Regions from separate parts of the Homo sapiens genome. Here region 1 is linked to region 2. Evidence: fine-mapped expression QTL. A gene starts in region 2. The other region holds a variant in brackets. All regions are shown on one strand. Distances are from middle to middle.

What was found. PIP is the estimated chance that this variant, and not a neighbour inherited with it, causes the effect.
Region 1: its variant is the best candidate, but not a certain one, in a credible set for the expression of PRKCD in whole blood (INTERVAL, PIP 0.51).

What each region holds. Positions count from the first base shown.
Region 1 is chr3:53,177,261-53,185,393 of GRCh38, forward strand. It overlaps PRKCD (protein kinase C delta), which reads left to right. Exons shown (of 19, transcript NM_006254.4): 3 at 1,144-1,277; 4 at 2,317-2,516; 5 at 3,947-4,007; 6 at 4,184-4,346; 7 at 4,441-4,472; 8 at 5,861-5,946; 9 at 6,192-6,321; 10 at 7,614-7,714. The coding sequence starts at 1,163. Among named protein-coding and RNA genes, the nearest start is that of PRKCD, 20 kb to the left of the region's middle. RefSeq lists enhancers at 3,652-3,701, 3,962-4,121. The variant G/A (reference allele first, on the strand shown) is at 4,523.
Region 2 is chr3:53,156,402-53,164,534 of GRCh38, forward strand. It overlaps PRKCD (protein kinase C delta), which reads left to right and starts at 4,808. Exons shown (of 19, transcript NM_006254.4): 1 at 4,808-5,027. RefSeq lists enhancers at 79-579, 2,576-2,655 and silencers at 4,310-5,259, 5,530-5,759.

The DNA of each region.
Region 1 (8,133 bases), 21 kb after region 2:
ATTATGGGAGTGAGCCACCATGCCCACCTGTTTTATATTTGGGGAAATAATTAGTTTGAAGGTGCAGGCAACCTTCCAGGCAAGCGAGAGGCACTCGACCCCAAGGGGTCAATTTAGAAGGGTCAGGCACACTGATGTGGGCAGAGCCTCTCACTGCCCTGATCCCTGAACAGAGTGGGTGCCAAGTTAGTGGAATGTCAGCTTTTGGTTCTGATTCTCTGCCTTAGGGTTTCAGTTTCCCCATCTGAAAAGTGGGGGGTGTTTATCTTGGCACTGCTTGTCTGCCTGGGTAGTTATGAAGAAAAAACCCCAAACTTAGAAAATCATGAAGGGCTGCATGGGGCAGGATGGGAGAAAGAGGCAGTACTGTCCTGTCCCCTTACCAGGTGACAATGGCACATACCAGGTGCCTGGCATGGAGCAGGTACCCAGCAATAGGGTACTTAGGGAGTCACTGAGTGACTCCCCAAATGAATATCTAGGGGTGACAGATGCAAATGCCACCAGGGCCCAGGTAGGAGGAGTGAAGAGAGTGCCCCTGGCCTGGGGTAGATTGATGGAGGGCAGCCATCCCAGTGCTAGCTGGCTGTTGCCCAGTGGGCCCAACATCACATTTTCCAGTTTTACCAGAGACGCCGCAAATCCAGACTTACATAAACCTCTCAATATTTTTCTTTTTCTTTTTCTTTTTTTTTTTTTTTTGAGACGGAGTTTGGCTCTTGTCACCCAGGCTGGAGTGTACTGGTGCGATCTTGGCTCACTGCAACCTCCGCCTCCCGGGTTCAAGTGATTCTCCTGCCTCAGCCTCCCGAGTAGCTGGAATTACAGGCATGCACCACCACACCCAGCTAATTTTTAGTAGAGATGGCTTTTCACCATGTTGGTCAGGCTGGTCTCAAACTCCTGACCTCAGGCCATCTGCCTACCTTGGCCTCCCAAAGTGCTGGGATTACAGGCGTCAGCCACTGCGCCTGGCAAACCTCTCAGTTTTTAACACTGGCAACTGAGACTAGTGTGTGTGTGCATCATGTGGGCCAAACCCAATCATAGCAGAGCCCTGGGGGAGCGGGTCCCTGAGTGCTGCCCGTGACTGTTCCCGCTGGTCCCGCCCGGCCGCCTGGCCTCACCCCTCTGTGTGCACAGCCCCACTGCAGGCCCCACCATGGCGCCGTTCCTGCGCATCGCCTTCAACTCCTATGAGCTGGGCTCCCTGCAGGCCGAGGACGAGGCGAACCAGCCCTTCTGTGCCGTGAAGATGAAGGAGGCGCTCAGCACAGGTAGGCCTGGAGGCTGGACCCTGGAGAGGGGCTGGGAATCTGGGCCCAGCTGGAAGGACTGGAGGGGGCCTGGCCTTGTTCCCTGCAACCTCTGAAGGATTCTGCTCTTCCTCATCCTTGACTCCCTGCCCCACTCAGCTATGAAGGCAGAGGCCACTGAGTCGCTATAGGGCTGCAAACACTGGCCAAATTGAGCCCTCCTTGGAAGGCTTGGAGTTTCTGGTTCCTCCTCCCTGGTTGTTTTACCCAGCAATTTTTACATGTCCATTTGTGCCAGGGCCTGTGCGGGGCACTGAGGATACTGTCATGCTCCAGGACTAACCTGGCCCTGCCCTCATGGGGTTCATAGTCAGGTGGGGAAACCAGGCACGTCAAAAAGCAGTGAGTCCTGCAATAGGGAAGCCCAGAGAAGGCACCCTCTGAACCTGAGGTCAGGGAGGACTTCCTGGAGGAAGCACATACCTCACATCATTCCCTCTTGCTTTTGCCCTGGCCTGGTGAACCCCTATTTGTCCCTCAGGTCTCGGCTGAACTGTTCCTTCCTCTAGGAAATCTTCCCTGACCCTTAGGCTTGACCCTGTAGCACTACCAGCCTTGCCCTCTTCAGTCTCATCACAACTGTGACTTAACAGTTACTTGAGGAAGGAGTTGGTGCATTCGCCACCCGGGCCTGGGGATCCAGGAGGACAGGCCCTGGATGTAGCTTTTCTTTCAGCTGTGTTCTGCGCCTCGAATATTATGGCTGGCATGCAGGAGCTGTCAGCCCATGTTCCCTGCATGAATGCATAAGGGCAGGCGACATTTAAATGGAGCTGGAGCAAGAGGATCAGAGGAAGAGGGAACAGCAGGAACAAAGGCCTGGAGGGAGGACCTAGCAGGGTGCCCAAGGTAGTTCTGTGCTCTAGAGGACACTGGGGAACCACAGCAGGCCCTCAAGGCAGGAGAGTCGGGCAGATTCTGCCAGGGGAAGGCCGTGGAGGTCTACGAGGGAGGGACAGAGGGGCCATGGCCCAACCTTCTCTGCCTGGCCTTGTTGCAGAGCGTGGGAAAACACTGGTGCAGAAGAAGCCGACCATGTATCCTGAGTGGAAGTCGACGTTCGATGCCCACATCTATGAGGGGCGCGTCATCCAGATTGTGCTAATGCGGGCAGCAGAGGAGCCAGTGTCTGAGGTGACCGTGGGTGTGTCGGTGCTGGCCGAGCGCTGCAAGAAGAACAATGGCAAGGCTGAGTTCTGGGTAAGGGGCGCACGAGCCGTGCCGTGTGTGTGTGTGTGTGTGTCTGTGTGTGTGTGCATGCGTGCATGTGTGTGCGTGCACACACGCGGGCTTGGTCAGTGAGCACAGCTGAAGAGCACCGGGCCCTGTGCTGGCCACCAGTCCAGCCCTGTGGCCAACATGTCCTGGGTGTGAATCCTGGCTCTGCAATTCACCAGATTCCCAGCCTCTCTGAGCTTCTGCTTCCGCATCTGTTAAGGGAAGGCGCTACTAAATGTGCCTACCTCAGGGTCAGTTGTTCAAATGAAAGGAGCAGCTGGATGTACAGGGCTTATTGCAGAACCTGACACATAGCAGGTGCTAAAGACGGCCAACTTCCTTATTGTGACTACTTTTTCCTTTTTAATTTTGGAAAGGCAGGATATGCACATAGTAAAACATTTTTAACTGCATGAAAGGGTGTGTCCCTGCCCCAACACCAGGCCACCAGGCCTCCTTCCCAGAGGCACCCATTATCCCAGTTCTTTTTGGAATCTTCGCATATATTCTAGGCCTTGGCAGCCATTGAGGGGGCAACATAGTGATCTTTAACAGCAAGGAGGTGGGAGAAGGGGAGGCTGACGGTCTCATCTACTTACCTGCTGAAATGGAGACTCTGCACAAGCATGTGGCCACTTGGCCATGTGCAGCTGTGTGTTCTGGGTGGCCACAGGATGCCAGTGCTGGCAGAAGTCCCCTGGGGTTACATGTGGGATGTAACCAAGATGTCTCCACCAGGAAAGGCCCTGTGACCATTGGAGGCTCTGATCAGCCTCCTGCGAGGGGTGAGGGGGCTGGGATGGGAGAGAGGTTAACACAGGGCTGTACTGACCCTTGGCCAGTCAGGCAGGGACACAGAGGGGCCTCTGGCTGTGCTGTCTCCGCTCCCCCAAGGGAGGATATCAGTCACCAGGTCTAGGTCTTGGGGGAGGTGAGGGGATAGAGGCTCAGGTCCCACCCTCGAGACTGTCCAATCTGCATGAGGAGCCCTCGGCACAGAGGGAGGAGCAGCGTGTGTGCACGAGGATGAGTGTGTCTGTGTGTCTGTCTCTCTCCGCATGTGCACACGGGTAGGGGCCTCCATTCTAAGATCCTTGCTAAGGGAGCTGCAGCGGGTAGGGGTGGGGAATTTCCCTTCCCGCTCTATTCCCCAGCTATGTGTCTGGGCTGGGTGTGGGCTGGACCCTTTCACTTCCCTAAATGTAATAATACCCCTGGGTACAGGGTGGGGGTGGGGCTCAGGAGTGGGGCTCAGGCGGGGCCCTGCCCACACTGGGCAGACAAGTGTCTGGCTAGGCCTTGGGGGGCTGCCTTGGCCTTGGGGGACCAGCCATGGGGGTGGGTTCTGAGTTTGGCCTGGCCCAGGCTGCCCTCACTGACCTTGTTCTCCCCTGGCCTCTGGCCCCCAACAGCTGGACCTGCAGCCTCAGGCCAAGGTGTTGATGTCTGTTCAGTATTTCCTGGAGGACGTGGGTAAGAACTCCCTGGGGGTGGAGGGCTCCCTTGCCGGGTTCAGAGGCAGAGCCAGCACTGAGGTGTAGGGAAGCTGCTCCCTTCGGCAGAGCTGTCCAGGACCACCCTGGGAGGGACTGTAGGGGTGCCACCCCTTCCAGATACCAGGGCTGACTTCCCTACTCCATGGTCACCAGATTGCAAACAGTCTATGCGCAGTGAGGACGAGGCCAAGTTCCCAACGATGAACCGCCGCGGAGCCATCAAACAGGCCAAAATCCACTACATCAAGAACCATGAGTTTATCGCCACCTTCTTTGGGCAACCCACCTTCTGTTCTGTGTGCAAAGACTTTGTCTGGTGAGAACCGGCCATGCCCACTGGTGGTGGTGCAGGGTAGTGGGGGCCGATCCCGGTCCCCGCTCACTCACTTTGCCTGGGTTTTGCCTTTCAGGGGCCTCAACAAGCAAGGCTACAAATGCAGGCGTAAGTGTCTCCACAGGCCAGTTTGTACGTATGTACCCATGTGTGCTCAC[G/A]TGTGCCAGTGCCTGTGTGTATGCCAGTGCCTGTGTGCGCTCAGAGAGTGTATGCACGTGAGTTTTCCCAGTGTAGATACAGCAGCTGAGTTCAGTGAGTGCTGGGGCTGGCTTGCTGCTGCTCTGGAAAACCAGTTCTGCGCATCTCTTCCCAGCTCCGCATTCAGTGACGGGGAGTTGGTGGATGGCAATTGGGCACAGTAGAGTATTCACGCAGAAACCAGCCCAGGCCATGCACCAGGCCTCTTTTCCTCGGAGAGGCAATGATAGGTCCTTTACTGGCACATAGTGGCTGCATGTGCTTCTGTGTAGATGTGGGTGTCTCTGAGTACACAGGTGTGAGCACACTCTGTCCCTGAGGGTGTATACACGAGGCGCCGCAGGCTGGAGTCAGACTGCCTGGGTTTGAATCCCAGCTCTACCACTTCCTAGCTATAGGGCCTTAGGCAAAGTTACTTAACCTCTCTGTGCCTCAGTTTCCTCATCTATAATTTTTTTTTTTTTGAGACTGAGTCTCATTCTGTTGCCCAAGCTAGAGTGCAGTTGTGCGATCTCAGCTCACTGTAACCTCCCTCTCCAAGGTTCAAGCGATTCTCTTGCCTTAGCCTCCTGAGTAGCTGGGATTACAGGCGTGCACCACCATGCCCGGCTAATTTTTGTATTTTTAGTAGAATAGGGGCTTTGTCATGTTGGCCAGGCTGGTCTCAAACTCCTGACCTCAAGTGACTCACCCACCTCAGCCTCCCAAAGTGCTGGGATTATAGGCGTGAGCCATCGTGCCTGGCCCTCATCTATAAATTAGATATAACTATAATGTATAATAGGGTCATTGTGAAGATCAAATGGAATAAGATATGTAAAGCTGTATTTTAAGTGCCTTCCACTGGTAGCCGCTCTGTGTAAGAAGTCTGTTATCATTATTACACATGCTTTGTGTGTATGTACAGGTGTCTGTTTTGAGGCGTGTCCATGTGCATGTGTAAGAGAGGGCATTTAGGAGCCGTTTGCTATCCCAGGGCTTGGAAGAACTGCCCCCGCTTCTCATATTGCGATGCCCTGTGCCCGCTAACTTCTGCCCACCTCCCTGCCCACTAGGACTCCTTCTTTCTAAGCCCCTGCAGATTGGCCTGTCCTCTCCGCCCCGTCCTCTCCAGGCTCCTCCTTCGAGGGCTGGCAGGAGGAAGACTCAAGCGCTGGGCCTCTGCGGGGTGAGGGTGTGGGCGGTCAGGAGAACGGTGGCTTTGTGTAGAGGGCTAGACTGGTCGGCAGGCACCAGCTCATAGACTCTGCCCCTCCCGGTGCTTTCCCTTCCCCCTCCTGGGCCTGTGCCTCTTCAAGAATGTAACGCTGCCATCCACAAGAAATGCATCGACAAGATCATCGGCAGATGCACTGGCACCGCGGCCAACAGCCGGGACACTATAGTGAGCCTGGGTCCGGGGCAGGGCTGGGGATCTGGGGGGCTTGGCCAGATGGGAGGGATTTGCACCCTCTCCCCACCCTCCCTGGGGAGCTTACCCTCCCTCCCCATTTTTCTTAGTCTTTCCTTGCCTCTCCCAGTGGAGCTCTCTTGGGATGTTGTTGTGCCCAGGGTTGGGGGAGAGCTAGGGGTTGAAGAAGAGGCTGGAGCTGGCACGTGACCCTCAGCCTGTGATACCCCCACCTCCAGTTCCAGAAAGAACGCTTCAACATCGACATGCCGCACCGCTTCAAGGTTCACAACTACATGAGCCCCACCTTCTGTGACCACTGCGGCAGCCTGCTCTGGGGACTGGTGAAGCAGGGATTAAAGTGTGAAGGTGCGTGCCACCCCGCCCCTGGGCTGCAGGAGGGGCACTCCCAGCTGGTGCTGCTGTGAATTCCAGCCACCTCACGCCACCCTCGCCTCCTCACCTGGAGACGGGCACCTCATTCAGGGACCTGATGAGGGTGAGGCCTTGGTGGACCCTCCCCACTGGCCTGACTGGCTCTGCCACTTACCTGCTGTGTGACCACAGGTGGGCGGCTCCACCCCTCTGAGCCATTTGGAGGAGAAAAGCAGGACCTAGAGAGTCCCTGTGAGGGGCCAGTGGGCAGAGGGTGCTGAAGCCAGGCCTGGTGCACACCGACAGGCGCCCAGACAGGCCTCCCCTGCCCTCTGCTTCACTTAGAGATGAGACAGAAGACCCTGGAGGGAAAGCGGCTTAAGTTGACCAGATGTTCTTTAAAGGGTTTCGAATTAGGTCCCTGTCTTCTGGTTTTTCCTTTTTCTTTAAATCATGAAAGATTGGCTGGGCGCGGTGGCTCACGTCTGTAATCCCAGCACTTTGGGAGGCCGAGGCGGGCGGATCATGAGGTTAGGAGATCGAGACCATCCTGGCTAACATGGTGAAACCCTGTCTCTACTAAAAAAATACAAAAAAATTAGCCTGGCGTGGTGGCGGGCGCCTGTAGTCCCAGCTGCTCGGGAGGCTGAGGCAGGAGAATGGCGTGAACCCAGGAGGCAGAGCTTGCAGTGAGCCGAAATCATGTCACTGTACTCCAGCCTGGGTGACAGAGTGAGACTCCGTCTCAACAACAACAACAACAACAACAACAACAACAACAAAAATCATGAAAGATTGAAATGCTTGGCCGGGCGTGGTGGCTCACACCTGTAATCCCAGCACTTTGGGAGGCCGAGGCAGGTGGATCACCTGAGGTGGGGAGTTCGAGACCAGCCTGGCTAACATGGAAAAACCCCGTCTCTACTAAAAATACAAAATTAGCCGGATATGGTGGCGCATGCCTGTAATCCCAGCTACTCAGGAGGCTGAGGCAGGAGAATCCCTTGAACCCAGGAGGCAGAGGTTGCGGTGAGCCGAGATTGCGCCACTGCACTCCAGCCTGGGCAATAAGAGGGAAACTCCATCTCAAAAAAAAAAAAAAAAGAGAGAGAGAGAGAGAGATCGAAGTATTTATGATGGCTTCAGATCAATGTTTTCCTAGAAACTGGAACCCAGCAGACCCCACTGAAGCCCTCCTTTCTCTTGCTCTCCTGCGCCTCTCCTACACTGCCCCCTGCCCTTGGCTGAGCTCTGAGACTGACAGCCCCGCTTCTCCCTCACCCCAGACTGCGGCATGAATGTGCACCATAAATGCCGGGAGAAGGTGGCCAACCTCTGCGGCATCAACCAGAAGCTTTTGGCTGAGGCCTTGAACCAAGTCACCCAGGTGGGCAGGTGCCATGGGGACCCTGGACACAGGGCAGTGGGGTCAGGGACAGTCAAGGCTTACAGCCACTGCTGGGGAGCCACAGACAGCCAGGATATATTTAGACCCAGGACTCTACTTCGGGAAGATGCAACTCAAGAATTTAGGCAGCAGAGGGAGGGGGGCTTTTTTTCATAAGAAATTCATTATTCAGGCAGTTCTTTACTTGAGGGTGAACCTGGGGACCACAGGAGTGGGTGTTGGAACACTTTGAACTAAGACTTTGGGTGTGGACGTTTGTATGTGGGGGGGGCTTGAGGGATGCCACAAAACCTAAAGGTAAAATTTTAGAATCAATCAGAAATGAAGCTAAATAGTCAAATAAAATCTATCGAGTGAGTGGTTGGGAAGGTAGGGTTCCGTTTACAAAACTTCTGTTT
Region 2 (8,133 bases):
ACCCTCACACCCAGGACCTCAGTTGCTCCATCCAAGGAATGGGCGAGCTCAGGTCTTCCTGACTTTCCTGGAGAACAAAGAGGGTGAGGAGGCGAAAGGGCCTCCCGGCGCCTGGAGCCAGGTGGCTGCCGGACCCGGGAATAGAGCCGGGTGTTTTATAGCGGGGTTTGCGTCACGCGGCTGGGCGGGCGTCTGCGCCCCCGGCTCGGAAAGGCTTCCCTGAGGCGGGGCGGGGCGGGGCGGGGCGGGAGGGTGGGGCCCGGGGGACTTTGTGCTGGTGCACGGGGGTCGCGCCGACTGGCGTGTACGTGGTTGTGCGGTGGGTATGGAGGTGTGTGCACGGCGCGGGGGACCCTGCTGTGCCTGCAGTCAGTCCTTCCCAGCCTGCCAACCTCGAGCAGCCGCCTTTCAGCTCAGGGCCACCCCCTACACTGTTTCCCATGGGCCAAGCTGGGTTTGGTGAGCTGTCCTCTGAGGATGTGGGGGATGAGGGGCTGAGAGGTGGGAGCGGGGAGCTGAGGCACCCTCAGGCCAGGGAGCGAAAGGAAAGGCAGGTGAGGCTTATAGCCCTCCCTGCCCTGCTAAGCCCCATGAGCCTCCCAGTAGGGACCCCGTAGATTAGAGCTAAATGGGTGCCGGGGATGGGGGCGGTGGAGGAGAGCTGGGAGGTCCCCTGGACTCCGTGCGAGGGGATAGCTCTTGCTGATGACTGTCCCAACACCAGTGCCCCTTCTCCCCACCTACACACATGTTTGGGGGCAGGGGCAGAGGAGCCAGGGAAGGGGACTCAGGCTGGCAGGGGCTGTGCCATGGTCAGTGCAGAGAAGGGACAGTCCAGGGTACACACCCCTGGGAGAGCCACAGGAAAGCCCTGTGTTCTGCACTCCCAGGACACACCTTCCCCTTGTCTACCCCCAAGTATGTCTCAGGTTTCACCCAAACACAAATGTGTTGAGGAAGGAACATGGAGGCAATTAGCCCAGCCTCACCAACTCTCTGCCTGGCAGGTAACACCAACATGGGATGAACTTGAACTCTTCCATCCTCTCAGCCTCAGGAGGTCGATCTTAACCAAACACCACTCCACAGATGAGGAAGCTGAGGCACATTTAAGTTGCAGTGCAGGGCAGAGCCAGGATGCGAACCAGCCCCTGGGCTGGCACTTCCCTGCTGTGCAGCACTACCCACAAGGCCACTGTCCCCCTCAGCCTGTCCTTGCTTGTCCTTAACCTAGTACCTGAGGCTGACACTCCTGTCGATGACAGTCTTGGTGGCCTGAGGCATGGGCATGTCCCAAGTGTCCTTCCTACTACACTGTCCCCAGTGGGAACCTCCCAGGCTCTGCTGCCCCCAGCAATTGCCCAGGTGCACTGTCGCTGTTGACTGTGTCTCCTGCTCCAGAAACACAAGCCCACTCTCTCTTGGCCAGGCCAGTGCTCTGGGTGTGATGGGGATTGCCGTGGCAACCAAAGCTTCAGGGACAAGGATGGTGACACAGAGAGACAGAAACAGAGAGAAGGTGCAAAAAGCAGAAATGCCAGGACAAGGACCAACTCTTGGCAGGGATCAAGTGAGGGACCCCATTTGCCTTCAGCTGTGTGGGCCTCAGGGACAGAGGGAGGCCTTTTCCAGGTTGCTTGGCCGAGTCTTGGACTTCAGGAGTGGAGGAGTCTGGAGGCCTCCCAGGGTTGATGGCCTTTGGAGGAGGCAGAGGTGGCAGGGGTCAAGTTGCTTCTCCTCTGGATAAATCCTCCAGGAGGCCCACAGAAGGAACAGCCCTGGGTGGATGCTGTGGGTGGGAGTCTGGAAGCTGCCTGGCACCACCCTAGCCCATCTCCTTGGCTGCAAACCTGGAGGAGGAGGAAAGTATCACCTCTAGGCAGCTGCTATGAGTCTAGCCCTGCTCAGGGATTTACGCCCCATGTCAGGAGAGGCCATTGAAGCCTCTTTCAAGGCTGACAGCCTGTGACTTGGCACATGACCAGGCTGTAACCCTGGGCAATGTGTCTAGCCTGGCCGAGGCTCTGTATATATCATCTCATTTAACTCTTACCACCTCATTCAACTCCTGACATGAGTCTGTCATCAGCCCTTTTCATAGGTGAGAACTCTGAAGCTGGGAGAGGCATGGTCACCTACTCAGGGTCATACAGTTGGCATGTGACACAGCCAAGGTTTGCTCTCAGGCTTCAGCAGGCCCTTCTTGTTGATGCAAGGCAGATTATGGGGACACAGATACCAGCTCATCTGGACCCTGCCCTGGCCCACCAGTGTGGCACCCAGAAGCAGCTCCAAGATGCAGGGTGGTTCTAGTCAAGCTTGGCCTGGATTCTCTGGACCTCATGCAAACCTATTCTCCCTGGAACCCTTGGACCTAAGGCCTGGAGGGAAGCCCACCTTCATCCCTTCTCTGCCCTCGCCACAGCATAGCTAGCACAGCCTTAGCCCCTCTGACCCTCTCTGAGTACATCGCACTTCCCCTTTCTCTAGAGGAGAAAGATTGGCTGAAGCCAGTGTATGCTTGCAGCCCCTGAGCTCACAAGTCTGCATATCCTGAGGATCAGGAAAGTGCTTCCTGTTGTCTAATGTAAATCTTGTTCCTGTAACACCAGTATATGTCAAAGCAGTGATTCTCAACAAGGGGTAATTTTGCCCTGCAGCAGACATTTGGCAATGTTTGGAGACATTTTTGTCTGTCACAAGTTAAAGCAGGGAGGTACTATTGGCATCCACTAGGCAGAGGCCAGGGATGCTGCTCAACATCCTTACAGTGCACAGGGCAGCCCCCACAGCAAAGAATCATCTGTCCCAAAGGTCAGTGGTGCTGAAATTGAGATCCCTGATGTAAACTATGGGCTTTGGAGCCAGACAGACCTCGGTCTGAATCTGCGTCTGCCACTGACTAGCTGTGTACTCTGGGGCAAGTCGCTTCTCCTTTCTCTGAGCCTCAGTTTGCTCATCACCAAAACTGGCACTAACAGCAGCCCTCACCTCTTGAGAACTGTTCAGACTGCCCACATCCAGCACCCAGCACACAGCCTGGTGCTGGGTAGCCCCTATCAGCGATAGCCATGATTATTCATTTCCTTCTTCCATGGTGAACCACACGGAGTGGGAACAAAGGTCTGGTGGCTGGACCTGGAGCTCCTCAAGGGTCAGTCCTCCCTCTGGCTGCAGTCCCTGGCACAGGGTGGGCCTATTGTTTATGTTGAGGGAGAGACTGGGTTGGCTTACTGTGGACCTGAAGGAGGAGCCAGAAGGAAACCCGATCCCAAGTGGGCAAAGGTCACTTGAGGCTCACCTTGTTTACCCTTTCCTCCAGTCCAACCCCAGGGAAGCCATGGGGCATGATGGGTGGGGTGGGATGGGATCAGGACACAGAACATGCTAATGAATATGGTCCTTCACTCAGGGAAGTGCCGTGCATTACAACTGGGCATCAGGGAGGAGGGACATTTGAATGGACACAACCAGGGCAGGTAGAGGTTTGGGGGTGGGGTGGGAAATGGCATTCAGGCCCAGAGAACAGCATGCTCAAGGCCTGGGTGTGAAGAGAAAGTCTTTCCCAAAGGATAGTCCTTGAACCCACCTGGTCTGGCCTTTTCTCCCCATCCATCTTCCGCAATCTCAACCAGGGTCCTCCCACCTGAACAACGTGGCAGCCCTTCTGTCCCCCATCCAGCCTCTCCTCTGCCCTGCTGTCCCTCTGCCCCATCTATCCCGCAGGAGCCCCCTTGAGCCTGTCATCCTGCCTGGTTGTAATAGCTTTCACCACCTTCTCATTGCTCTGTGAGAAGACCAAAGTCCAATGGCCTGTCTCTGTCACAAGCCCCTTTCTCAGCTCAGGCCACCTCAGGGATTGTCCCCCACTTCCATCCCTTGTGTCTCAGCTGGGAAGAGCTGTCTAGACTTTCTCTATCCCTTCTAGGTGGTTCCCCAGGACCTGGAACCCTCTTTTTTGTCTCCTGGGAAGTGACATTTCTTTGGATGAGTATAAGGCTAATGTCTTGGCTTTCTGAGCTCTGGGGACAGGGGAATGGACTCCCTAGAACCCCAACTGGTCCCTAGACTTTGAGCCTAGGGGACACTCGGTGAATAGATGAATGAGTGAATGAATGAATGAAGGAGTTATGGCTGACAACCAAGTTCCATGTCTGGAAAGGAGGCTCAGGCGCCTGCCAGGAGCAATAGAGAGGTCTCAAAGGTGGGGGCAGGAAAGCAGAAGACTGCCAATCGGGGTAGGGGCAACTGCCAGTCCGAGTAGGGGCAGTTCCCAGAACCGCCTGAGGAGCAGTGCAGCGCCCGACCAGCGAGAACCTCCGACCCTGGAGTCTAACCAGCTCAGTCTTTGGGGCAGAGCCGGGACAGCGGGCTTGGCGGCGGGCACCGCGCCCGGCCGCGTCCGAGCTCCAGCCAACAGGAAGAGCAGGAGTGGGGCCAGGAGAGGCGGGCCAGCTGGCCAGTGGGGAGTCCCGGGCGTGGGTGTGGGGAGCGGGGGAACCCCCGCCGGCCCCTCCCAGGCCCCAGCGGGCGGAGGGAGCCTCCCCACCGGGCCTCAGCGTCCTCCTCTGTAAAATGGGCCCCTTCTGAGGGCTGGCTGCGCGCTAATGGCGGGAGGATGCGAAGAGGGCCAGGCAGGGCAGAGGGACCGGGAGACTCGGTGTCCCGCGCAGGCAGAGGCGGAGGGACGCTGTCCCCGATTGCAGCTGGCGGGGCGAGGCCTGGCAGGGCGAGGCCTGGCGGGGGCGGGGCCTGGCGGGGGCGGGGCCGGCGGCACCTGGGTGAGGTCGCTCGGCCCCGCCCCCTCGCACTTCCGTGTGCCGCGGCGCCGGAGCCCGAGGCGGCTGTAGCCCACATCTCCCGAGCGACCCCCGGCGCCCGCCCGCCGCGCGGAGGCCCGGGCCACACCTCACTGGCCGCTTGGCCCATCCCAGTCAGCGCCGCGCCGAACCCCGTCCGCGCGCGCCGGGGAGCGGCGCCCCCGCCGCTGCCGCCGCGACCCTTGGCGCCTGCCCCTGCAACGGGAGGTAAGTGAGGGCCGGGTCCGGGCGCGGGATCGGGGCTACCCCGAGGGCGCGGCGCCCTTCCTTCCCCCTTCCCGCCCCAGTTCCCGTTTCCGAAACTGAGAAACTGAGCCGCGGTCAGCGAAAGTCCCGCCGCGCCGAGACCTGCCGGTGACTCCGTCCCCCTGTCCGTCTGTGTGTCCCTCCGCTAGACAGTGGGGGCTGAGGTCCTTCTGTCTGCCCGCTCCCGGCCCCTCCACCCGCCCGTGTGTCTCCCGCTCCTCCGAGGGGCCCGTCCGTCCCTCCCGACTCTCTCCCGGGCCCTGTGTCCGTCCGTCTGTCGCCACCCACTCTGTGTTCTCCCCCTGCGCGCCTCTCCGAGACCCGATCCTTCTGTCCCTCGCCACCCGATCCGTCCGTCCCTTGCCCTCCGCGTGCTCCATCGCCCCACCCCCACCCACACCCCTACCCCCGCCCGCCGCCCCCTCGATCCCGTCCTCCCGGAGCCGCGCCCCCGGCCCACGCTCGCCGCCCCCTGCCAGTCCAGCCGCCTCTCCGCTCTACCGCGGGGCCCAGGCCAGGCCGCCCGCCGGGCCTCGCCTCCCGCCCCTGGGTCCCTGGAGGCCCGACCCGCGCGGCGCCTCCTCCTCGCTGTCTCTTCTTTCGGTCTCAAGAGTCTTTCTCGGTCCCTTCATCCGTCTCTGGGCTGGGCGTGGCTCCAGTCTCCACCATCCCCCTTCCCACCCCACCCCTCCGCCCCTCTGAGACCCCTCCCAGGGTGGCCCCTGCCCGATACGGTCTGTACTCGCCCCCAACCCAGATGCCACTCCCGTTGTGGGGGCTCCACCAGATGAGGGGAGGAGGTCGGGGGGGGGGGTCCTCCTGGCTGGTGGTGGAGCGGCAGAAGGAGAGCACCATCGGAACTGCTCCCACTTCCCCAGTTCCCTCTCTCTTGGGGCAGGGGAGAGCCCCACCGAGCCCCGCCTTAAACCTGGTCAGAAGGATCTGCTGTGAGTGGGCGGGGGGTCCCCTTCTCTGACGCCTACCCTGTATGCGTGGAAGCTGTCTCCTTGTGCTAAGTCACTGGTATCTGGGTGTGTGGGTATGTTGTGTGTCTGTGTCAGCTTCTGTGCTGTCTGTCACTGTGGGACTTGCCTGTGCATGTGTGTCCTTTTTCGCATGTGTGACTTGCTTGTGTGTATGTGTGTATGTCTGTTTGTGTCCTGAGGCTCTGTGTGTGTCTTTTGCAACTGTGTGTACCATTCTTGGTGTGTTTGTTGTCACCAGACTCGTGTGTGTGTGTGTGTGTGTGTGTGTCCTTGCCTGCTAGTGTGTGTGTCCCTGTGTGTCTGGAGGTTTCGGTGTTGCACACTGGGTATATCATGGTGACCAACTGGCCATGAGTACGTTAGATCTGTTAATTGTGGAAGCCCCTGGTGTTGGGTGCCTACCCACCAGTCTCATGTGTGAGTGTATCTGTATAAGTGTGTGTATGTGTGTGTACTCACGTGTGGCTCTCCCTCTGCCACTGAGTTTCTGTGACCAGGCCCACCTGGTCACTAAGGGAGGGGACTGATCCCTGGGGTTTCCTCGTTCCTGCTGTGGAGTGAGCTGGGGCTTGGTGAGCAGGCCAGCAGAGGGAGGCTGTATGGTGCATGTGTGATATGTGTGGTTGTGTGTGTGCGTGTGTGTGTGACAGAGAGGTGTGGTGGTGTCTGGGCAGCTGTACCTGGCTGATGGGTGGTGTGAGGGCTATGCGATGGGACAGTGCTGGGGTAAGCCTGGGAGTGTGTGGCCACGGTAGGAGTGTGTGACTGGTGGGACACAGTCTATGAAACTGCCGGTGTATGCTTGGGGAGTGACTGTGATTGTGGGGAACCGAGAGTGCCTGGGCGTGGGTGTTAGCGGCAGGAGGGGGTGTGACAAGGTGTGTGGTGACAGTGCTGGGAGGGAAGGTGAGAGCCCAGTGTGGGGGTGTGTGTGTGAGTGTGTGGGAGACCATGAGGATGTGGGTGTGCACATGGAGAGGGCTAGAGGGCAAGTCTTGGGGTTTGTAGTGTTGTGACCAAGACCTCGGGCTCTGTACCCAAGAATTATTTGGGCTCCAATACTTGCTTGTGCCTGTTAAGAGCAAGAGACCCAAGCTAGGCCTCTCAAGGCTGAGTGTCCTTATCTGCAGAATGGAGAGAGTGAGGACAAAAGTTCCTGTGTTAAAGGTCCTTTAACACAATCTTGGCCCATAGTGAGAACACAGCACATGTGAAGTCTTTTGTTGTCACCACCCCCAGCTATACGGTTCCCATTCTCCTGGGAGCTGGGGCTAAAGAAAGCCCAGACAGTATCCAACCCAATTTCCTGCCTGTCTGTTGCCCCTTCCCATCTCCTTGACCAAGCAGCTTGAGGGAGGGGGGATGCCCAGACAGAGCCCCCAGTACCCAGCCCTGTTCAGCCTGCATGACAGCCCCTCCCTCACCAGACCTTAGTGTCAGTAGTAGCGATGGGGGAGACAGGGGTGGGGGATGATTCAGAGCTGTGACTGCAGGGCGCTGACACCATTTAGCTGGCACAGTTTAGATTAAAATTAGAAATAATTTAAAGTACAGACAAAAAGATAAAGCCAAGGATGCCTCTGCCCCCAGGGAATGGTGATGGGGGTCTCCAGCTGGGGGAGGGGTTCACATCTGGGGAGCAGAATCTTTCTTAGAGGCTTGAGCTGGCCTTCAGAGAAAATGCTTAGGCCTTTCAGCCAGGAGACACAGAGTACCTTGCTACCTTTGCCATTTCTTCCTCCCAGGATATCTCCAGGCCTCAGTTTTTTCAGCTGTGTAATGGGCACAATAGTAATGTGAGAATCACCTGAACTGTAAGGCACAAGAGATTAAAAAATGTCACTCTTCAGTCTGGGCACGGTGGCTCACACCTGTAATCCCAGCATTTTGGGAAGCCGAGGCAGGTGGATCACTTGGTCAGGAATTTGAGACCAGCCTGGCCAACATGGTGAAACCCTGTCTGTACCAAAACTACAAAAATTAGCTGGGTGTGGTGGCGCGCACCTGTAATCTCAGCTGCTCAGGAGGCTGAGGCACGAGAATCACTTGAGACCAGGAGGCAGAGGTTGCAGTGAGCCAAG